Linked DNA regions of Homo sapiens: regions 1 and 3 are each linked to region 2. Evidence: fine-mapped expression QTL. A gene starts in region 2. Each other region holds a variant in brackets. All regions are shown on one strand. Distances are from middle to middle.

Region 1 (8,274 bases), 70 kb before region 2:
CCTCTTTTTCTATTGATTGGAATAGTTTCAGAAGGAATGGTACCAGCTCTTCTTTGTATGTCTGGTAGAATTCGGCTGTGAATCTGCCTGATCCTGGACTTTTTTTGGTGGGTGGGCTCTTAATTATTGCCTCAATTTCAGAGCCTGTTATTGGCCTATTCAGGGATTCAACTTCTTCCTCGTTTAGTCTTGGGAGGGTGTATATGTCCAGAAATTTATCCATTTCTTCTAGATTTTCTAGTTTATTTGTGTAGAGGTGTTTATAGTATTCTCTGATGGTAGTTTTTATCTCTGTGGCATCAGTGGTGATATCCCCTTTATCATTTTTTATGTGTCTAATTGATTCTTCTCTCTTTTCTTCTTTATTAGTCTTGCTAGCAGTCTATCAATTTTGTTGATCTTTTCAAAAAACCAGCTCCTGGATTCATTGATTTTTTTGAAGGGTTTTTTGTGTCTCTATCTCCTTCAGTTCTGCTCTGATCTTAGTTATTTCTCGCCTTCTGCTAGCTTTTGAATGTGTTTGCTCTTGCTTCTCTAGTTCTTTTAATTGTGAAGTTAGGGTGTCAATTTTAGATCTTTCCTGCTTTCTCTTGTGGGCATTTAGTGCTATAAATTTCCCTCTACACACTGCTTTAAATGTGTCCCAGAGATTCTGGTATGTTGTGTCTTTGTTCTCCTTGGTTTCAAAGAACATCTTTATTTCTGCCTTCATTTCGTTAAGTACCCAGTAGTCATTCAGGAGCAGGTTGTTCAGTTTCCATGTAATTGAGCACTTTTGAGTGAGTTTCTTAATCCTGAGTTCTAATTTGATTGCAGTGTGGTCTGAGAGACAGTTTGTTATGATTTCTGTTCTTTTACATTTGCTGAGGAGTGCTTTACTTCCAACTATGTGGTCAATTTTGGAATAAGTGCAACGTGGTGCTAAGAAGAATGTATATTCTGTTGATTTGGGGTGGAGAGTTCTGTAGATGTCTATTAGGTCCGCTTGGTACAGAGCTGAGTTCAATTCCTGGATATCCTTGTTAACTTTCTGTCTCGTGGATCTGTCTAATGTTGACAGTGGGGTGTTAAAGTCTCCCATTATTATTGTGTGGGAGTCTAAGTCTCTTTGTAGGTCTCTAAGGACTTGCTTTATGAATCTGGGTGCTCCTGTATTGGGTGCATATATATTTAGGGTAGTTAGCTCTTCTTGTTGAATTGATCCCTTTACCATTATGTAATGGCCTTCTTTGTCTCTTCTGATCTTTGTTGGTTTAAAGTCTGTTTTATCAGAGACTAGGATTGCAACCCCTGCTTTTTTTTGTTTTCCATTTGCTTGGTAGATCTTCCTCCATCCCTTTATTTTGAGCCTATGTGTGTCTCTGCACGTGAGATGGGTCTCCTGAATACAGCACACTGATGGATCTTGACTCTTTATCCAATTTGCCAGTCTATATCTTTTAATTGGAGCATTTAGCCCATTTACATTTAAGGTTAATATTGTTATGTGTGAATTTGATCCTGTCATTATGATGTCAGCTGGGTATTTTGCTGGTTAGTTGATGCAGTTTCTTCCTAGCCTCGATGGTCTTTACAATTTGGCATGTTTTTGCAGTGGCTGGTACCAGTTGTTCCTTTCCATGTTTAGTGCTTCCTTCAGGAGCTCTTGTAAGGCAGGCCTGGTGATGACAAAATCTCTCAGCATTTGCTTGTCTGTGAAGGATTTTATCTCTCCTTCACTTATGAAGCTTCTTTTGGCTGGGTATGAAATTCTGGGTTGAAAATTCTTTTCTTTAAGAATGTTGAATAGTGGCCCCCACTCTCTTCTGGCTTGTAGAGTTTCTGCTGAGAGATCAGCTGTTAGTCTGATGGGCTTCCCTTTGTGGGTAACCCGACCTTTCTCTCTGGCTGCCCTTAACATTTTTTCCTGCATTTCAACTTTGGTGAATCTGACAATTATGTGTCTTGGAGTTGCTCTTCTCAAGGAGTGTCTTTGTGGCGTTCTCTGTATTTCTGAATTTGAATGTTGGCCTGCCTTGCTAGGTTGGGGAAGTTCTCCTGGATAATATCCTGAGGAGTGTTTTCCAACTTGGTTCCATTCTCCCTGTCACTTTCAGGTACACCAATCAGATGTAGATTTGGTCTTTTCACATAGTCCCATATTTCTTGGTGGCTTTGTTCATTTCTTTTTACTCTTTTTTCTCTAAACTTCTCTTCTCGCTTCATTTCATTCATTTGATTTTCAATCACTGATACCCCTTCTTCCATTTGATCGAATCGGCTACTAAAGCTTGTGCATGCATCAGATAGTTCTCGTGCCATGGTTTTCAGCTCCATCAGGTCATTTAAGGTCTTCTCTATGCTGTTTATTCTAGTTAGCCATTCATCCAATCTTTTTTCAAGGTTTTTAGTTTCTTTGCAATGGGTTGGAACATCCTCTTTTAGCTCAGAGAAGTTTATTATTACCGATCTTCTGAAGCCTTCTTCTCTCAACTTGTCAAAGTCATTCTCTGTCCAGCTTTGTTCCATTCCTGGCGAGGAGCTGCATTCCTTTGGAGGAGAAGAGGCATTCTGATGTTTAGAATTTTCAGCTTTTCTGCTCTGGTTTCTCCCCATCTTTGCGGTTTTATCTACCTTTGGTTTTTGATGATGGTGACGTACAGATGGGATTTTGGTGTGAATGTCCTTTCTGTTTGTTAGTTTTCCTTCTAACAGTCAGGTCCCTCAGCTGCAGGTCTGTTGGAGTTTGCTGGAGGTCCACAGCAGACCCTGTTTGCCTGGGTATCACCAGCAGAGGCTGCAGAACTGCAAATATTTCTGCCTGATCCTTCCTCTGGAAGCTTCGTCTTAGAGGGGCACCTGGCCGTATGAGGTGTCAGTCGGCCCCTACTGGGAGGTGCCTCCCAGTTAGGCTACCCACTTGAGGAGGCAGTCTGTCCATTCTCAGATCTCAAACTCTGTGCTGGGAGAACCACTACTCTCTTCAAAGCTGTCAGACAGGGACATTTAAGCCTGCAGAAGTTTCTGCTGCCTTTTGTTCAGCTATGCTCTGCCCCCAGAGGTGGAGTCTAAAGAGGCAGGCAGGCCTCCTTGAGCTGCAGTGGGCTCCACCCAGTTCGAGCTTCCCGGTGGCTTCGTTTACCTACTCAAGCCTCAGCAGTGGCGGGTGCCCCTCCCCGAGCCTCGCTGCCGCCTTGCAGTTCGATCTCAGACTGCTGTGCTAGCAGTGAGCAAGGCTCTGTGGGCGTGGGACCCTCTGAGCCATGCGCGGGATATAATCTCCTGGTGTGCCGTTTGCTAAGACCATTGGAAAAACATGGTATTAGGGTGGGAGTGACCGGATTTTCCAGGTGCCATCTGTCATGGCTTCCCTTGGCTAGGAAAGGGAATTCCCCAACCCCTTGCGCTTCCTGGGTGAGGCATCACCTCGCCCTGCTTCGGCTCACAGTCTGTGGGCTGCACCCACTGTCTTGCACCCACTGTCTGACAAGCCCCAGTGAGATGAACCCAGTACCTCAGTTGGAAATGCAGAAATCACCTGTCTTCTGCGTTGCTCATGCTGGGAGCTGTAGACTGGAGCTGTTCCTATTTGGCCATCTTGGAACCAATCAATCTGAATTTTTAAGAATAATTTGGTGGGTAGAGGCTCGGGAAGTGGCGAATGCTAATTGGTCAGGTTGGAGATGAAATCATAGAGAGCTGAAGCTGTCCTCTTGCAGTAAGTCAGTTCCTGGGTGGGGGCCACAAGACCTGATGAGCCATTTTATTGATCTGGGTGGTGTCAGCTGATCCATCGAGTACAGGATCTGCAGACTATCTCAAGCACTGATCTTAGGTTTTAC[T/C]GTAACCTAAGATAATACCCCCAGGAGCAATTTGGGGAGGTTTAGAATCTTGCAGCCTCCAGCTATTGGACTCCAAAGCTATAATTTCTAATCTTGTGGCTAATTTGTTAGTCCTGCAAAGGCAGTCTAATCACCTGGCAGGAAGAGGATTTATTTTGGGAAAGGGCTGTTATTGTCTTTGTCTTAAAGTTAACCTATAAACTAAGTTCCTCACAAAGTTAGTTCAGCCTACGCCTAGAAATGAACATGGACAGCTTGGAGGTTAGAAGCAAGAAAGAGTCAGTTAGGTCAGATCTCTTTCACTGTCATAATTTTCTCAGTTATAATTTGTACAAAGGTAGTTTCAGTGATGAGAATGTCAGAGACATATTTTGAACCAGAGCAACTCCATCTTGAATAGGGGCTAGGCTGCATTCCCAGGTGTTAGGTATGCTTAGTCACAGGAGGAGATAGGAGGTTGGCACAAGATACAGGTCACAAAAACCTTGCTGATAAAACAGGATGCCATAAAGAAGCCAGCCAACACCCGCCAAAACCAAGATGATGATGAAAGTGACCTCTGGTTGTTCTCACTGCTAATTATACACAAATTGTAATACATTAGCATGCTAAAAGACACTCTCACCAGACCCATGACAGTTTACAAATGCCATGGCAACATCCGGAAGTTACCCTATATAGTCTAAAGAGAGGAGGAACCCTTGGTTCCCGGAAATCCCTGCCCCTTTCCCGGAAAATACATGAATAATTCATCCCTCGTTTAGCATACAATCAAGAAGTAACTATAAGTGTACTCAGCTGAGCAGCCCATGCCACTGTTCTGCCAAAGGAGGAGCCATTCTTTTATTCCTTTACTTTCTTAATAAACTTGTTTTCACTTTACTCTATGGACTCACCCTGAATTCTTTCTTGCACATGGTCCAAGAACCCTCTCTTGGGGTCTGGATTGGGACCCGTTCCAGTAACAAGAAGACCTAAGTGAGACAGGGAGATGTCTTTATATGGTGATGGGGAAGGGTATAGGAAGTACAGAAGACAGAAGAGGGGACAGCCAGAGCAGGTGGCTTCAGAGCACAGCTCCTGGAGCAAAGAAAGGATGGAAGGAGGCAGAGGGAGGTTTTTGACCCAAGAGAAGTAAGAATTTTTCAGTGGTGAGAAAAGGAAACTTTTGGCCAGGTGTAGTCTCACATCTGTAATCCCAGCACTTCAGGAGGCTGAGGCAGGAGGATCTCTTGAGCCCAGGAGTTTGAGATTGGTTTGGGCAACATAGCAAGATCCCATCTCTACTAAAAATAAAAAAAATACACCAGGCACGATGGCTCACACCTGTAAATCCCAGCATTTTCAGAGGCCAAGGCAGGTACATCACCTAAGGTCAGCAGTTCGAGACCAGCCTGATGAATATGGTGAAACCCCACCTCTACTAAAATTACAAAAATTAGCCGGGCATAGTGGGGTGCACCTATAGTCCCAACTACTTGGGAGGCTGAGGCAGGAGAATCGCATGAACCTGGGAGGCAGAGGTTGCAGTGAGCCAAGATCGTGCCACTGCACTCCAGCCTGGGCAACAGAGTAAGACTGTGTCTCAAAAAAAATAAAATAAAATAAAATAAATGGCTGGGCACAGTGTCTCATGCCATAATCCCAGTACTTTGGGAGGCCGAGCAGCTGGCAGATCACCTGAGGTCAGGAGTTCAAGACCAGCCTGGCCAACATGGTGAAACTCGGTCTCTACTAAAAATAAAAAAAATGGCCAGGCATGTCTGGGTGTGGTGGCTCATGCCTGTAATCTCCAGCACTTTGGGAGGCCGAGGCAGGTGGATCACGAGGTCAAGAGATCGAGACCATCCTGGCTAACACGGTGAAACCCTGTCTCTACTAAAAATAGAAAAAATAGTCAGGCATGGTAGCGGGCACCTGTAGTCCCAGCTACTCAGGAGGCTGAGGCAGGAGAATGGTGTGAACCCAGGAGGCGGAACTTGCAGTGAGCTGAGATCATGCCACTGCACTCCAGCCTGGGCAACAGAGCAAGACTCTGTCTCAAAAAAAAAAAAAAAAAAAATTGGCCGGGCATGATGGCAGATGCCTGTAGTCCCAGCTACTTGGGAGGTTGAGGCAGGGGAATAGCTTGAACCCAGGAGGTAGAGGTTGCAGTGAGCCAAGATCCCACCACTGCACTCCAGCCTGGGCAACAGAGGGAGACTCTGTCTCAAAAAAAAAAAAAAAAAAAAAGGTGGTGGGGGGGCCAGGTGAGGTGGTTTACACCTGTAATCCCAGCACTTTGGGAGGCCGAGGCGGGAGGATCACGAGGTTAGGAGTTCAAGACCAGCCTGTCCAACATGGTGATACCCCATCTCTACTAAAATACAAAAAATTAGCCAGGCATGGTGGTGCATGCATGTCATCCCAGCTACTCGGGAGGCTGAGGCAGGAGAATCACTTGAACTCAGGAGGCAGAGGTTGTGGTGAACAGAGATCATGCCACTACACTCCAGGCTGGGCGACAGAGCAAGTCTCCATCTCAAAAAAAAAAAATTAAAAAAATTAGTCTGGCATGGTGGCGTATGCCTGTAGTCCCAGCAATCGGGAGGTTTAGGTGAAGAAAAAGAAAAGACACTTTCATCCTTGGGGTTGTTTGAGCACAGAGCCAAGTGATCACATGTCAGAGCTTCTCACAGTCCTTTTTTTTTTTGGATTTTTAGTGAAGATGGGGTTTCACCATGTTGGCCAGGCTGGTCTCAAACTCTTAACCTCAGGCGATCTGCCCAAAGTGCTGGGATTACAGGCATGAGCTACCGTTCCCGGCTTTCTCAAAATCCTTAAACCCAAAAGTCTATGATTCTTATTTTAAAATTCCAGGTGCTTCTCTTTCTAGGCTGGAGAGATATTCCCCTAAAGTCAATTCAGGTTCATAGTTGAATTCCTGTCTACGGATTCTAGGAAGGCAGCAGAATAAGGATCTTTGAGGTTTAAAAGCCTTTTTTCTTTGCTTTCTCTTCTTTTAAAAAAGGGAGGGGGGCTGGATGTGGTGGCTCATATCTGTAATCCCAGCACTTTGGAAGGCCAAGGCAGGTGGGTCACTTGAGCTCAGGAGTTCAAGACCAGCCTGGGCAACATGGTGAAACCCCATCTCTACAAAAAAAATACAAAAATTAGCCAGGCATGGTGGTGCATGCCTGCAGTCCCAGCTACTTGGGAAGCTGAGGTGGTAGGATCACCTGAGCTGGGAGAGTTTGAGGCTACAGTGAACTAAGACTATACACCACTGCACTCAAGCCTGGGTGACAGAGCAAGACTCTGCCTCAAAAAAAAAAAAAAAAGAAAAGAAAGAAAAAAGGGAAAAAAAAGAAAAGAAAGCATGGTTAATACAAGTTGAAACATAGTAGTTAACTAGCAGTTGCCTGGCGCAGTGGCTCACAACTAATCCCAGCCTTTTGGGAGGCCGAGGCGGGCAGATCACGAGGTCAGGAGATCGAGACCATCCTGGCTAACACGGTGAAACCCCATCTCTAGTACAAATATAAAAAATTAGCCAGGCATGGTGGCAGGTGCCTGTAGTCCCAGCTACTTGGGAGGTTGAGGCAGGAGAATGGCGTGAACCCCGGAGGCAGAGCTCACAGTGAGCCAAGATCGTGCCACTGCACTCCAGCTTGGGTGACAGAGCGAGACTCCATCTAAAAAAAAATAAAAAGTAGTTAATGCTGCATGGTTTGGAGTCAGACTCTGCCTAGATCCAAATCCTTGCTCTTCGGCTGTGTGACTTTGAGCCAGTTGCTTAACATCCCTGTACCTTGATTTTCTTAATCAAGAAAGATTAAGATTTTCTTAATCAAGAGAGAAATAATTCTAGCCTCAAAAATTGCAAGGTTTTTTTTGTTTGTTTTTCTGTTTTTGAGATGGAGTCTCACTCTTGTCGCCCAGGCTGGAGTGCAATGGCGTGATCTCAGCTCACTGCAACCTCCACCTCCCGGGTTCAAGTGATTCTCCTGCCTCAGCCTCCTGAGTAGTGGGATTACAGGAGTCTTGCACCACACCCAGCTAATTTTTGTATTTTTAGTAGAGATGGGGTCTCGCCACATTGGCCAGACTGGTCTTGAACTCCTGACCTCAGGTGATCCACCCACCTCAGCCTCCTAAAGTGCTGGGATTACAGGCATGAGCCACCACGCATGGCTATAAATTGCAAGTATCAAATGAACTAAAATGTAAAGTCCTTAGAACCTTCTAAGGTTTACCCATATTGAACACTCAATAAATGTTTGCTCTCATTAAAAATAAGGGAGGAGCCGGGTGTGGTAGCTCACGCCTGTAATCCCAGCACTTTGGGAGGCCGAAGTGGGTGGATCACAAAGTCAGGAGTTTGAGACCAGCCTGATATGGCGAAACCCCATCTCTACTAAAAATACAAAAATTAGCCAAGCATGGTGGTGGGCACCTGTAGTCCTGGCTACTT
Region 2 (8,257 bases):
TAACTGCATAGCAATATAAGCACATAATTCAGACTTTGTAGACCTTTTTTTTTTTGATGGAATCTCACTCTGTTGCCCAGGCTGAATACAGTGGCAAGATCTCGGCTCACTGTAACCTCTGCCTCCCAACTTCAAGCAATTCTCCCTCCCTCAGCCTCCCAAAGAGCTGGGATGAAAGGCACCTGCCGCCACATCCAGCTAATTTTTGTATTTTTAGCAGAGATGAGGTTTCGCCATGTTAGCCAGGCTGGTCTCGAACTCCTGACCTCAGATGATACGCCTGCCTGGGCATCCCAAAGTGCTGGGATTACAGGCATGAGCCACCACACCTGGCTGATTTCCTAGACTATTATTAATCACAAAGTGTCATCACAATTTCACCCACAGTGAGAGGCACTATAACATGTAGTTTAGGAAGACAGTCTTTGACATCATCTTCTGCAGTAATTTAACCTTAGTCTTTGGTTTCCCTATCTGTAAAATGGAGACAATTATATACATATCCTCTATTTCACATTTACATTCTTTTCAAATAGGTGTGTTAAAATCAGTATGTATGTTTAATTTTGTAGTTTTCTTCTCCCCCCAAAAGCTATCATTAATACATCTCTTATTCAACAGAACCTCAGAAACAAGTAAAATAGGTAATATAACAATACACCTCAATTTTCTTATCAGTAAAATTGAGGTAATAATTCTATCCAGGTCATAGGGTCTTATGAAGATGAACGGAGATAAAGCACATAAAACTCTTAGCAGTATACCTTCCACAAAGGAAATGCTACATACACACACACACACTCACTCACTCACACTCTCTCTGGCATAAAGTGTGCATAGTGACTAGACCAGAAGAGAATTGGTTTGGTTGGAAGGCCTCTTTCATAAAAGGCTCTTTCATAAAAGATGGAAGAATCTTGCTCTGGCCTTGCTGCTAACTGGTATCTTTTCCTTATACCACGGATTTCTGGCAGGATCTATTAGAATTTGGAGCCCCTGGCAGTTCTACTGTTTTAAGGTTGGTTAGATCTGGCTGAGATGCACTTAACAGCCCTTCTATCAGCTTTTCTCTGTAATCTTCCTCCTACCTTGTCTTCTGGCCTACTCTTGCCTGACACTACTGCCTCTTCACAACACTGCAGAGTTATTAATATTTTTTTAAAGCTCAGTCAGATCATGTCACTGTTCTGTTCGAAACCTCCCAGTGGCTTTCTCTTTCTCCCAGATTAAAAGCCTGAGAAAGGAAGAGGCAGGCCCTGACATCTGAGAGCTGGTCTGACACAGCTAGACTTCAGGGTTGTTAGAAGCTGGCCTGATGCTCACAGCTTGGCCCAGTTATTCTTCTGTGGGACATAATCTCACAGAACACCAACATGAGACAAGGTCAGTCAGACTATAAAAAAGGGACACAACAACAAGGCCATTTCAAAATTGTGTCTAAGCAGAGACAAGAGAGCAAGGTCACTGTGCAAGCCATGAAATACCAAACGTCCTTCTCTGCTATTATGAGTGACTGCTGCTTCTTTACTAGGTATAGCTTTATCCTCACTCTAGTCTGTCCATCTTATAGACAATACTTATTCAGATACCTAGTCACAGAAATGTCCCTGCTTTCTGACAGCACCCAATCCAGGGTGAAGCCTGGCTTTCTTGAGCCCTCCCGCAAATCGCCCAAATTCTATAATAGGTTCTCTCACCCTCACCAAGCTGTCCCAATGGTCCTCCACAACACCTGCTTCCTCACTGCAAGAACTATTAATAATGAACTCAACTTGTTTAAGCACAGGTGTGTTCCTGATGGTCTCTGGCTGGAGGGCAGGGACAGGCCAGAGTCCTTACAATTGTCTACAAAGTCCCACAGTGGTTCTTGGACTTCATCACCCATCAGAATCATCTGGAAGAATTGTTAAAAGAGAATTGCTGGTCCCCAACCCCAGAGCCTGTGATTGAATAAAGCTGGGGTTGAGGTCTTAGCATCTGCATTTCTAACAACTCCCAGCACCTGAGGCTGCAGATCTGGGGCTCACACTAGAAGACTCACTTCTCTAAACCACTTGTTCCCCCGTCTTATTTCCCTGACTTAGCCTCCTTGTCTCCACTCCCATCTTACTTCATTCTACTCCAGCCACACTGGCCTCCTTGCTGTGTTGAGCCTCCCTGGGCACATGCCTTAGGCTACTGCTTTGTCTGCACTCGGATTCGTAACACTTACTCCCTCACCCCTCAGTGAGACCTACCCCAATCTCCCTACCCTTTTCAGAATTTATTCTCCACAACACGTAATCAACCTTCTGACATGCTGAATAATTTACTTATTACATTTATTGTTTTGCTCTCTCTCTGCTAATAAAGGAATGACACCCTTAAGACATCAGCTATCTGAGTGTATTTTGTTCACGGCTGTATCCTGAGACCTGGAAAAATAGCTGGCAAGTAGTAGATGCTCAACAAAAACTTTCTGAATGAATGTTCCTTCCAGCTTTTCAGCTTCTTCTCCTGAGTCAGGGCAGCACTCCCTTCAGATCTTCCTATAAATACAATCTCTCTCCTATATGTCCAACCTCTTGACAATTACAATATCCAGCTCCTGGGACTTTTCGCTTCAGTGGCTCAGGCCAGGGATACAGGGCAGGTAAGTCAGCCATGGGCCAAGGAGATCAAACAACGCCAGAAAATTACTGTATCCTGCATCTCTTCTTCACCCACCTTCTCCAGATGACCTTATCCACCCATCTCCCTCCTCTCTTGTTTTCCAACTATTTGTTCACCTGGATTTCTCCTCTCTTTGACCACCAACATTGTTATGGCACCCCTAAAAAAAATAAAAAAAGCAACCACTCTCCCCGTGCTAAGCCACCCTCATGCTGGGGCTGTCCTATCTCCGCTTCTCCGGCAAGGCTCCTCCTGACTTTGTTTTTCCTTTCTACTCCCTGAAATTTTGCTTCTGAAGTTCCATTACCGCCTCCTTCCTAAATTCAACTGCAATTTTCGGTCTTGCTCTTTCCTGATACACTGTGGAATTTAATACATCTGTCTGGAAACTCTTCAAGAACACCGCGTGTTGCCTCTACCTCCTTTAGTGCTTCTACTCCGGTCCTTCCTAGTCTTCTCTTCATAAGTGTCCCCAAGTTTCCTTCCAGGAAGATGGGTCGTGGTTTCCTTGACGCCAATGCGTTTCTGGCCGTGCCCTCGTCACTTGCCCACTCCGGGGTCACGAAGGAGAGGCCCCGGATTCCGGGCGCAGCCGCGGCTGAGCCCGGGGCGTTGAATGCGGGTGGAATTTCCAGTCTGGGAAGGGGCGGGGCCTTGGACCGCCGGGAAGTTTGGTCCTCAGCGGCTTCCGTCCTGCAGCAAGTCCGGAAGAAGGTCCGGGGGCTGGAGTCCTGGGACCTAGCTCGGGACCGGCCTGGAGATGGAGTTCGACTGCGAGGGCCTGAGACGGCTGCTTGGCAAGGTGCGGGCAGTCCGCTGGGCCAGTTTGGGTCCTCAGGGTCTTGCGGGGGGTGCCTCTGCCTTTGGCCAGGTTGCCTCCGTTTTGCGTTTCCCGGCTTGTAGTGGGGCTTGGAGCCGGGGCGGCTGGTCTGAAACCGGCTATGGGGCGCGGCCCCAGGGAGGCTGAGGGGACCTGGATTCTGATTTCTCCCGCAACTCTGAGGTTTCCCAACCTCCACCTGGTGCGAGCCCTCCTCATACCCCCAGCTTCACTGACCTCAAACAGCTCCCAGCACACGCCTAACCACGCCTTTCTCTCTTTCTCTCTGCTGAAATGGTCTGCCTTTTTTTTCTTTTTTCTTGAATTGCAAAGCTCATCCTTTGTAAGACCCAACTCAGTCACTCCCTGTAAGATTGAATCAACCCTTCTGTTTTGAAAGATATCGATTATCACATTGTGGAGTAATTATGTATTTACAAACCGTAATCTTGCTGTGAGCCCCTTTGACTGCAGACATTGTGCTTTTGTATTCCCTTCCTCTAGCCACTATGTTTGACAACACCATAGGTACTAAGTAACTGTGCAGTGAATGAAAGACCTGAGTAGATTTAGAGATGAAGACAGAGCTTGAAGGCCCTGGAGAGATCTTAATGTTGGAAGGCTGGGGAGTAGGCGGGCCGACCTAGAAATCTGACCTATATTTCTGAGACCTGACTAGCCTGAGTTTCCGGTGTACAATCTGAGGGAATCCCCGCCAATTTTCTAGTTAAGAAGACTAGTTTTCACCAGTTTCCTAGTTAAGGTGGTTTTTTGTTTTTTGTGTTTTTTTTTTTGACAGAGTCTTGCTCTGTCCCCCAGGCTGGAGTGCAGTGGTGCGATCTAGGCTCACTGCAACCTCCACCTCCCGGGTTCAAGCCGATTCTCGTGCCTCAGCCTCCCAAGTAGCTGGGACTACAGGCGCGTGCCACCATGCCTGGCTAATTTTTGTATTTTAGTAGAGATGGGTTTTCACCATGTTGGCCAGTCTGGTCTCGAACTCTTGACCTCAAGTGATCCACTCGCCTGAGCCTCCCAAAGTGGTGGAATTACAGGTATGAACCACCGCACCCGGCCTTAAATAATTCTTAATGCTTCTTAAGACTTCCTAATGCAGAAACCATAGTTTATGCCATTTTTGTTATACTTGCCTCTTTCTTTGTTGGGGCAGTTTACATACCCGTGGGAGGTTTTGAAGTCCTAAGATTGAAATTGTTTATGTAAGTGACTTGAATGAATTTATCTACTGCGACAGGTGCAGATCTTGTAGGAAGAGAAGTATCATAATGCTACCCTTTCTGTCTCCTCTTCAGAGCATGTGAAATTAAAAGAACCATTCAAGTTTTAATGTGCAGAGGATGATGGATTGTCCGATGGGAAGAATTGTTCAAGTTAAGATTCAAACATAGAGCATATTTTTGGTGGCACTGGAATGAAGGAAAAGAAGAGAGACAATGGTTTTTTCAAGGGTGAGAGTAGAATAGTAGAGGATTTTTTTTTCCCCATCAGTGCATAGCATAGAGTCTGGCACATAGGTAGCTTATTATTATTATTACTGTTTGTTTTGAGACGGAGTCTCGCTCTGTCACCCAGGTTGAAGTGCAGTGGCGCGATCTCTGCTCACTGCCATCTCCGCCTCCTGGGTTCAAGCGATTCTCCTGCCTTAGCATCCTGAGTAGCTGGGACTACAGGCGCCCACCACCAAGCCCGGCTAATTTTTTTTGTATTTTTAGTAGCGACGAGGTTTCGTCATATTGGCCAGGCTGGGGTAGCTTATTATTAATAAGTATTTGTTGGCTGTATAAATTAAGGAAACCAATCAGAAACAAGTCAGTGCAGCAAATATATGAAGTTTCCTGACCATTCACTGCAGTCTGCAAATAATATTGTTTAATATCTAGAAATAATTTTAGTCTAGGCACAGTTACTCATGCCTGTAGTCCCCGCTACTTGAGAGGCTGAGGCAGGAGAATAGCTTGAGCCCTGGTGTTTGAGTATGCAGAGAGCTATGATTGTGCCACTGCTTGCCAGCCTGGGAGACAGAACGAGACCGTGTCTCTAAAAAGTAGAAATAAATGTAAGGCCAGGCACGGTAGCTCACGTCTGTAATTCCAGCACTTTGGGAGACCGAGGCGGGTAGATCACCTGCGGCCAGGAGTTCGAGATCGGCCTGTCCAACATGGTGAAACCCCATCTCTACTAAAAATACAAAAAAATAAGCCAGGCGTGGTGGCCCGCTCCTGTAATCCCATCTACTCGGGAGGCTGAAGCAGGAGAATCACTTGAACCTGGGAGGTGGAGGTTACAGTGGCCCAAGATCGTGCCACTGCACTCCAGCCTGGGCAACAGAGGGAGACCCCATCTCAAAAAAATAAAAAAAAATGAATTTAAAATTTTTTAAAACTTAGAAATAATTTTGTTGCAGAAAAAATCGATGGAGAAGTGATCAGTACATTAAAAAATTAAGCAACTATGGAGAAAGTAAAAAATCTAATTAAATAGATATCCCAGTTTCATAGATGTGAAGATTGTCAGTTCTCTCCAAATTTATCTATAGGGTCAATGCATTTCTTGGAAACTTCAAACTGATTCTAAAATTCATTCAGAAGAGCAGAAGGCCAAGGATAACCTTGACATTATTATGGAAAAAAAATAGATATGAGGGCTGGGTGTGGTGGCTTACGCCTCTAATCCCAGCACTTCGGGAGGCCGAGGTGGGCGGATCACTTGAGGTCAGGAGTTCAAGAGCAGCCTGGCCAACATGGTGAAACCTCGTCTCTCCTAAAAAATGTAAAAACTGGGCATGGTGGTGGGCACCTGTAACCCCAGCTACTTGGGAGGCTGAGGCAGGAGAATCGCTTGAACCCAGGAGACAGAGGTTGCAGTGAGCTGAGAATGCGCCACTGCACCCCAGCCTGAGCCACAGAGCAATACTCTGTCTCAAAAAAAAAAAAATAATAATAATAAAGAAGGAAAGAATAGATGATAGATTTGAGGACCTGCTCTACCAAATATCAGTACTACGGCAAGTAAAATTTAGTGTGGCATTGGTGTGGAATAGACTAACCAGTGAAACAGACTAAAGGGCTTAGAATCGTAGTCACACATGTTTGGAAATGCAATATAAAACAGAAGACATTGCAGATAAATGGCGAAAGGAGAATGGAGAGACAAGTGAATATCCACATGAGAAAAATGAAATTGTACCTTGTATCCCTGCCTTACGCCAAACATAAAAATTTCCAGTGGATTAAAGACCTAAATGTAAAAGACAACTTTAAAACCTAAAAAGATAAATGTTATAGGCTCAGAATATGCAAACCGTTTTAAAATAATACACAAATAAGAGACAAATTCAACTGTATTAAAATTAAGAACAGAAGACACCATGAAGAAAGTGAAGAGGCAGCCAGGTGTGGTGGCTCACACCTGTAATCTCAGCACTTTGGGAGGCCAAGACAGGCAGATCTGTTGAGTCCAGGAGTTTGAGACAAGCCTGAACAATATGGCAAGACCCTATCTCAATTTTTTTAAAAAGAAAATTAAAGAAAGTGAAGAGGCAAGATACAAACTTAGAGAAGCTATCTGTAGCACACATAACTGACAAAGTATTGGTATCTAAAATATATAAAGCATGCCTACAAATCAATATTAGAACCAATAAATAGGCCAGGCATGGTGGCACACACCTGTAATCCCAGCACATTAGGAGGCTGAGGCATGCAGATCACGAGGTCAGGAATTCAAGACCAGCCTGGCCAACATAGTGAAACCCTGTCTCTACTAAAAATACAAAAATTAGCCGGGCATCCTGCAATGGGCCTGTAGTCCCAGCTACTCAGGAGGCTGAGACAGGAGAATCGCTTGAACCCGGGAGGTGGAGGTTGTGGTGAGCTGAGATCACGCCACTGCACTCCAGCCTGGGCAACAGAGCAAGACTCCGTCTCAAAAAAACAAAGCAAACAAAAAAGTAAATAGATAATTGGGCAAAAGATATAAATAAGCATTTTTTAAAAACAGGAATAAAATCACTAATCACATTTCAATTGTTAGTAGCCACATGTGGTTTGTGGCTATCATATTGGACAATGTATGTGTAGATTATTTCCATTATGGCAGAAAGCTTTGTCAGACAGTTCTGTATCATAAGTGGGTGGGTCAATTCACCAGTACTTATTATTCTGCAAAAAGCGTGTGCTTTTTCTTTTTTTTAAAGAGACAGAGCCTTGCTCCGTCTCCCAGGCTGGAGTGCAGTGGTACCATCATAGCTTACTGCAGCCTCAAACTCTTGGGCTCAAGTGATCCTCCTGCCTCAGCCTCTGGAGGTAGCTAGGACCACAGGCAACATCACCACATCTGGCCAATTTTTGTTTTTATTTTTGTAGAGACAGTGTCTTGTTGTGTTGCCCAGGCTGGTCTCAAAACTACTGGCCTCAAGTGATCCTTTGTCCTTGACTGTCCAAAAGTCTGGGATTACAGATGTGAGCCACCATGCCCAGCCAATAAGTATATTCCTTCGTTTATATTAAGTGTTACATTTAGAGAAATTACCTAGTTCCCTAATTCCTATTTTCTGCTCCTCCAGCTGAGTTACCTCGGAGAGGCAACTTAACCTAGATTTGCTCACTCATAAAATGGTAATACTGCGGTGGCTCACACCTGTAATCTCAACACTTTGGGAGGCTGAGGTGGGTGGATCACCTGAGGTCAGGAGTTCAAGACCAGCCTGACCAACATGGAGAAACCTCGTCTCTACCAAAAATACAAAATTACCCGGGTGTGGTGGTG
Region 3 (8,000 bases), 120 kb after region 2:
CCTCTGCCTCCTGGGTTCAAGCGATTCTCTTGCCTCAGCCTCCCAAGTAGCTAGGATTACAGGTGTGCACCACCATGCCCAGCTAATTTTTGTATTTTTAGTAAAGATGGGATTTTGCCATGTTGGCCAGGCTGGTCTTGAACTCCTCACCTCAGGTGATCCACCTGGCTCAGCTCCCAAAGTGCTGGGATTCCAGGTGTGAGCCACCACGCCTGACCCAAAATAATCTTAAAGAATAGTCAGAAGACTTAATACATCCTGATTTCAAAACTTACCACAAAGCTACAGTAATCAACATATTTATAAATACTACTATGGAGTTGAGCTTCATGATATATTAAGTTAAAAATGAAAGAAGATGGAGAAAAACGTATGTAGTAACAAAAAGCTGTAAACCATAAAAAGTGTAAATGGTTACCTATAAAAGGATGGAGGCTATAGGGGAAAGGGCACAGGGACAGAAGCTGGACCACTTTGAATAATTCCTGTTCTCTAGAATTGATGTTGGAGCCATGTGAATATTTTATAAAACTGTGAAACAAAAGTTAAATAGTTCTTCAGCATCGAAATTAAAATGAATAAACTTAATCATGCACTCACTGTTGGTCTGCACAGAGAAAAACTACTCCAAATAATTTTAGAATACAGTAATTTGAATATCCCTAAACTACTAAGCTCCAGACTCATAATCTCTAGCTGTTTGACATTTCCTCTTGAGTATCATTTCAGGTATCTTGATTTTTCCCCTCTATATGTAACATCCCTGCCTCCTTCCCTCACTGACTCCCACCCGATCAGTAAATTTACCAACCCAGTTAAATGGAACTACCATCCCTTCAGTTACTCAAAGGAAAAACTCTCGAAGTTATTTTTTATTCCTCCCTTTCTCTCACTAGACATAATCTATCAGCAGTCCTGCACATTTTATCTCCGAAGTCTATTTTCAGTTTGTCCACCTTGTAAATGCACCAGTGAGGAGTCTAGTACAATTTTGGAGAGTCAGGCAGTAAACTATAGCCCTACTTTCACTTCTCAAACAGTAATTTGGAAAACAAACCTCAGCCTTTAGAATATAAACCTTGAACTCATATGATTAAGCATATTATCTTCCCATACACACTACTTTTTTTTTTTTTTTTTTTTGAGACAGGGTCTCACTGTGACCCAGGCTGGAGTGCAGTGGCGCAATCATGGCTCACTGCAGCCTTGACCTCCCTGGCTGAAGCAATCCTCCCGCCTCAGCCTCCTGAGTAGCTGGGACTACAGGAATGCTCCACCATGCCCTGATAATTTTTGTATTTTTTTGTAGAGATGGAGTTCTGTCATGTTGCCCAGGCCATTCTCAAACTCCTGGATTCAAGCACTTCACCCACCTTGGGCTCCCAAAGTGCTGGGATTACAGGCTTCAGCCACTGCATCTGGCCTCACACTAGTATTTTTTAAAGTCATTATAGTATATACACTGATTACCACTGTGCAAAGTACATATTACACTAACAAAACAGAGATTCTGGAATTATACTGGTGGTTTACGATTTAATATTCATTAAATTCTTTTTCTCCTCAAAGTTACTAAACCCACCCCCAAAAACTCCTTCACTGAACAGTGAAAATAAAGCTGTCCTATGCAGCCATAAAAAACAAAATCATGTCCTTTGCAGCAACATGGATGCAGCTGGAGATCATTATTCCAAGCTAATTAATGCAGGAACAGAAAACCAAATACATGTTCTCACTATAAGTGGGAGCTAAACATGTGGGTGCACATGGACATAAAGATGGGAACAAATGACACTGGAGACTACTAGAGAGGGAGGGAGTGAGAGCAGCAAGGGCTGAAAAACTATTAGGTACTTTGCTCAGTACCTGGGTGGCAGGATCAATCCTACCCCAAACCTCAGCATCACACAGTATACTCATGTAATGAACCTACACAGTGTACCCCCGAATCTAAAAGTTGAAAATTTAAAACAACAAAGCTGACCTGGATTAGTAACAATAAGCAGTTTGCAGTGAGGACTGTACTGGGTAATATTGGGAATCATTAATTTAAAGATGGATACATTTCGCTGGACTAAATCAAGGCGTGTTTCTCCTTTTTTCTGGCGTGCACCTGCTGTGATAATCACTAGATTGGAGTTTGCAGTGACCAGGTAATCTGAGGAAAGATTAGAATAAACAATCGATTATGAAAGAAAACATCTGGCATTTAAGTATACTTCCTGTTCACTTCAATCACCACACTATGTTTACCAAAGAGTGGGTTCCCTTAAATCTTCTAGTATGCCTAGACTACTTTTTAATTTCAGGAAATTAGCACTAAGTTTCCCTTGTACATTTTTTTTAATAATAAAAAAAAAAAAAAAAACGTAAGTCATGTGCAGTGGCTCACCCCTGTAATCCCAGCACTTTGGGAGGTCGAGGTGGGTCCATCAAATGAGGTTAGGAGTTCAGGACCAGACTGGCCAACATGGCAAAACCCCATCTCTACTAAAAATACAAAAATTAGCCAGGCACAGTGGCGGATGCCTGTAGTCCCAGCTACAAGGGAGACTGAGGCAGGAGAATCACTTGAACATGGAGGCAGTGAGCCAAGATCACACCACGACACTCCAACCTGGGTGACAGAGCGAGACTCCGTTTCCAAAAACAAAAACCTCCTAAATTGGGTACAGTAGTGCACTCCTATAGTCCCAGTTACTTGGAGGCTGAGACCAAGAGGATCACACACGAGCCCAGAAGTCCAAGTCCAGCCTGCACCAACATAGCAAGACACTGTCTCAAAAACAAACCAAAACAAAACAAAACAAAAAAAAACAAAAAAAACACCTCACCTCCTAAAATACCTTTTGTATTATTTAGATGAAGAGGTCAAAATATGGATTACTCTGGCAAGAATATTTAGAGATAGATGTGGTGTGAACAGACCTTTGAATAGCAAATTGTTGGTTCATTCGTTTGTTCAAATAATTATCTCCCAGGTGCCAAGTGAATAAAGTACAGTAGTGAAGAGCTTAGGCTTTGGAATCAAACAGAACTGAGTTCAAATCCCTACTCCATCACTTTTTTTTTTTTTTTTGAGACAGAGTTTCACTCTTGTTGCCCAGGCTAGAATGCAATGGCACGATCTTGGCTCACCACAACCTCCACCTCCCAGGTTCAAGCGATTCTCCTGCCTCAGCCTCCTGAGTAGCTGGGGTTACAGGCATGCACCACCACGCCCGGCTAATTTTTATGTTTTTAATAGAGACAGGGTTTCTGTATGTTAGTCAGGCTGGTCTCGAACTCCCAACCTCAGGTGATCCACCTGCCTTGGCCTCCCAAAGTTCTGGGATTACAGGCATGAGCCACCATGCCTGGTCCTATCACTTTTAATTAACCTTAGTTCAGAGGTACATCATCTCTAAAATAGAGTTGTGCTCAGGATTAAATTATATAAAGTGCTTGGGTCAATGTCTCACACACAATAGGCAGTCAGTTCATTGTAGCTGTCATGATAACTGCTGTTACTGCTGCTCACAAGGAACTCAGTCTGGTGCCGTGGGAAACCTTGCAAAGTACAACCCAAGGAATCTGAACACGTTATGAGAGTACAGAGTAGGGAGCAACCAGCCTTATCTATAAAAACTGGGGAGGTCAAAAGAAA[TAAAG/G]ATGATTTTCTTAGATACTTGTTCATGTATATTAGAATATTTATAGTATTTAACTATGACATTAACCTTTGCTGGAGACAATATTTGGCATTTTCATAAAAGGGCTGCCATGTTGAAGATCCATTGTCTCACCCTTCAGTTTGCCTTCATCAACATCCACAAGGACAAGTTCATCACTCAAACCCTGAAAAACATTGTTAGTCCAATGGGTGTGAGTGTATCTCTTGATTAACTGGAGAATGAAAGAAAATTCTTATATTGGTGATCTATGTCTAGCTTGTGAATTATCAAAATCAAAGGAAACATAATAAATGATCTCATCATTTTGTCATGATATAAAAGTCTAAACCAGAAAAAATACAAATTACAAAGAGGAGCATTTCAGCTCATCATGAGGAAAACAAAAACAGAAACTGCTTAGTAAATAGAACAATCTCTGAAAGTAGTGAACACCCCGATTTTCAATTTCAGCTGAGGCTGCACAGTGATAAAGTAGTGCTTCTGCTGAAGGAATTTCTCACCAGACCTTGAGCTTCTTGAGACTAGGAAGTCATTCATCCCCAGCCATCTGGTGCTTACTTATCATCCACCTGGCACAGAGGAGCTCAGTAAAAGTTTTTTGAATAAATGGTATCTTAGTCCATTTTCTGTTCCTTATAACAGAATACATGAAACTGAGTACCTTATAAAGAAAAGGAATTTATTTCTTACAGTTATGGAGGCTGAGAAGTCCAAGGTCAGGGGGCCGCCATATGGTGAGGGCTTTCTTGCTGGAGGAGACTCTGCAGAGTCCCAAGGCAGCACAGGGCATCACATGGCAAGGAGGCTGCGATTGCTAAATTCAGGTCTGTCTTCCTCTTCTTATAAAGCTACCATTCCCACTCCCCTGATAACCCATTCATCCATAGATTAATCCATGGCAGAGCCCTCATGACCCAGTCAACTCTTAAAGGCCCCACCTCTCAATACTGCCACATTGAGGATTAAATTTAAACGAGTTCCAGAGGGGACAAACATTCAAACCACAGCAAATGGATTAAAATATAGGGCTCCTTCCAACTCAAAAATATTTTAGTTCTATAATCAGACAGTTATTACCTACAGAAATCAATTCATACTATAATTTCTATGATGCTACTTTATATGTAAGAAAGGAGAGAAAATATACTTCTATTTGAAAAAAAAAAAACACTAGAAATACAAGAAACTGATTCAAATAATTGCCTAAAGTGGATGCTAAGGAAAGATTGGATGGAAACCAGTATGACTTCTCCATGTATGTTTTTTTGTTTTTGTTTTTGTTTTTTTTTGAGATGGAGTCTCTTGCTCTGTTCCCCAGGCTGGAGTGCAGTGGTGCAATCTCGGCTCACTGCCACCTCCGCTTCCTGGGTTCTAGTGATTCTCCTGCCTCAGCTTCCTGAGTAGCTGGGATTACAGGCATGCACCACCATGCCCAGCTAATTTTTGGGTTTTTTTTGTTTTTTTTTTTGTTTGTTTGTTTGTTTTTTGAGACAGAGTCTTGCTCTGTTGCCCAGGCTGGAGTGCAGTGGCGTGATCTCGGCTCACTGCAAGCTCCGCCTCCCAGGTTCACGCCATTCTCCTGCCTCAGCCTCCCGAGTAGCTGGGACTACAGGCGCCCGCCACCACACCTGGCTAATTTTTTGTATTTTTAGTAGAGACGGGGTTTCACCGTGTTAGCCAGGATGGTCTTGATCTCCTGACCTAGTGATCCGCCCGCCTCTGCCTCCCAAAGTGCTGGGATTACAGGCATGAGACACCGCACCCGGCCAATTTTTTTGTATTTTTAGTAGAGACAGGGTTTCACCATGTTGGCCAGGCTGGTCTCAAACTCCTGACTTCAAGTGATCCACCTGCCCCGGTCTCTCAAAGTGATGGGATTACAGGCACAAGCCTTAATCCGCGCCCGGCCTTGTATGTATCTTTCTGAATTTTACTTTTACTTTTTGTTTCTGAGACAGGGGCTTGCTCTGTCCCCCAGGTAGGAGTACAGTAGCATGATCATGACTCATTGCAGCCTCAACTTTCTCAGGCTCAGATGATCCTCCCACCTCAGCCTTCTGGGTAGCTGGGACAACAGGCGCCTACCACCACATCACAGGAGCCTGCCACCACATCTGGCTAATTTTTGTATTTTTTGTAGACATGGGGTTTCACCATGTTGCCCAGGCTGGTCTCAAAGTCCAGGACTCAAGTGATCCGCCTGCCTCAGCCTACCAAAGTTACAAGCGTGAGCCCATGCCCAGCCTAGTTTTTTTTTTTTTTTCTTTTTTTTGAGACGGAATCTTGCTCGTTGCCCAGGCTGGAGTGCAGTGGCACTATCTCGGCTCACTGCAACCCACACCTTCCCGGGTTCAAGCGATTTTCCTGCCTCAGCCTCCTGAGTAGCTGGGATTACAGGCGCCTGCCACCATGCCCGGCTAATTTTTTGTGTGTTTTTAGTAGAGACGGGGTTTCACCATGTTGGCCAGGCTGGTCTCAAACTCCTAACCTCATGATTTGCCTGCCATGGCCTCCCAAAGTACTGGGATTACAGGCTTGAGCCACCGCACCCAGCCTTACTTTCAAATCTTGTAAATGTATTACCTTTTAACTACATATTCTTTTTATCTTTATTACATAATAAATTTTTCCTTGGAGGAAAAATAACGCCTTTGTGTTAGTGCTTAGAAGTAAATGATCAAGGTGGGACATGGTGGCTCACGCCTATAATCCCAGCACTTTGGGAGGCCAAGGTGGGCGGATCATGAGCTCAGGAGTTCGAGACCAACCTGGCCAATATGGTGAAACCCTGTCTCTACTAAAAATACAAAAATTAGCCGGGCGTGTTGGCATGCACCTGTAGTCCCAGCTACTCGGGAAGCTGAGGCAGATGAATCGCTTGAACCCAGGAGGCAGAGGTTGAAGTGAGCCATGATCGCGCCACTGCACTCCAGCCTGGGCAACAGAGCGAGATTCTGTCTCAAAAAAAAAACAAGTAAATGACCAAGGCCGGGCGCGGTGGCTCACGCATGTAATCCCAGCACTTTGGGAGGCCAAGGCGGGCGGATCACCTGGGGTCAGGAGTTCCAGACCAGCCTGGCCAACATCGTGAAATCCTGTCTCTACTAAAAATACAAAAATTAGCTGGGCATGGGGGCACATGCCTGTAATCCCAGCTACTTGGGAGGCTGAGGCAGGAGAATCACTTGAACCCGGGAGGCGGAGGTTGCTGTGAGCTATCAGATTGACCATTGCACTGCAGCCTGTGCAACAGAGTGAGACTCCCTCTCAGAAAAAAAAGAAAAGGAAAGAAATAACCAAGCATCCATAATTTAAGCACATATCCAATTCACATTGTTAGTGCTTTTTACCTTTTTTCTTTTTTGAGACAGGGTCTCACTTTGTCACCCAAGCTGGAGTACAGTGGCACATTCATGGCTCACTGCAGCATTAATCTCTTGGTCTCAGGCAAGCTTCCTGCCTCAGCCTCCCAAGTAGCTAGTACTACTAGCATGTACCACCGCACCTGGCATTTTTTTTTTTTTTTTTTGAGACGGAGTTTCTGCTCTTGTTGCCCAGGGTGGAGTGCAATGGTGCGATCTTGGCTGACTGCAACCTCTGCCTCCCGGGTTCAAGCGATTCTCCTGCCTTAGCCTCCCAAGTAGCTGGGATTACAGATGCATGCCACCGTGCCCAGCTAGTTTTTTATATTTTTAGTAGAGATGGGGTTTCACCATGTTAGCCAGGCTGGTCTCAAACTCCTGACCTCAGGTGATCCACCCGCCTTGGCCTCCCAAAGTGCTGGGATTACAGGTGTGAGCCACCGTGCCCGGCCACCTAGCCAATTTTTAATTTTTATTCATTTATTTATATTTTAGAGACAGGGTCTTGCTTTGTTGCCTAGGCTGGTCTCAAACTCCTAGGCTCAAGTGATACTACTGCCTTGGTCTCCCAAAGTGCAGGATTACAGGCATGAGCCACTGCCTGGATCCAGCCTGGATCTTTTTACTCTATTCGAATTACTGGAAATTCAAAGCCAAGCGCTTTACATTTTAAACTAGACTGTACAACTGATCAACCTAGAAGTCTAAGCTGCATTACAAGCAGCCAGGTAACTGAGGTCAACATCAACACTGATAAATCATGACAGTATGTAGCCGGGATATGATGTGATGAAAAGTGGCACTTTATTCCTATGTCTTCCTCCCCAAAACCCAAAACCTCGGTCTCACCATCAAAAAAAACCCCACCAAATTCCAAGAGAAAGGTGTTCTACAAAATACTTGACTAGTACTCCTCAGAATGCTCAGTCATCAAAAACAAGAAAAATCTAAAGAAACTGTCATAGCC

Which allele goes with the higher level. Positions count from the first base shown, and alleles are read on the strand shown. Sizes are in standard deviations (SD) of each study's normalised expression. Not every link is listed here.
As copies of G replace TAAAG in region 3, the expression in monocytes after Pam3CSK4 of the gene that starts at base 3,333 in region 2 goes down (large effect, 1.8 SD a copy in Quach 2016).

The links. PIP is the estimated chance that this variant, and not a neighbour inherited with it, causes the effect.
Region 1: its variant is the best candidate, but not a certain one, in a credible set for the expression of UEVLD in blood mononuclear cells (TOPMed, PIP 0.62).
Region 3: its variant is the best candidate, but not a certain one, in a credible set for the expression of UEVLD in monocytes after Pam3CSK4 (Quach 2016, PIP 0.55).

Annotation. Positions count from the first base shown.
Region 1 is chr11:18,654,108-18,662,381 of GRCh38, reverse strand. No RefSeq gene overlaps it. Among named protein-coding and RNA genes, the nearest start is that of SPTY2D1, 24 kb to the right of the region's middle. The variant T/C (reference allele first, on the strand shown) is at 3,822.
Region 2 is chr11:18,583,810-18,592,066 of GRCh38, reverse strand. UEVLD (UEV and lactate/malate dehyrogenase domains) reads left to right here and starts at 3,333. Exons shown (of 12, transcript NM_001040697.4): 1 at 3,333-3,454. The coding sequence starts at 3,413. LOC112268073 (a long non-coding RNA gene) reads left to right here. Exons shown (of 4, transcript XR_002957242.2): 3 at 1,226-1,531; 4 at 1,787-1,974. RefSeq lists enhancers at 3,216-3,265, 3,171-3,465, 3,526-3,585, 3,626-3,775, 4,176-4,285.
Region 3 is chr11:18,459,795-18,467,794 of GRCh38, reverse strand. It overlaps LDHAL6A (lactate dehydrogenase A like 6A), which reads right to left. Exons shown (of 7, transcript NM_144972.5): 2 at 3,717-3,834; 3 at 1,985-2,158. Among named protein-coding and RNA genes, the nearest start is that of LDHAL6A, 7.9 kb to the right of the region's middle. The variant TAAAG/G (reference allele first, on the strand shown) is at 3,647.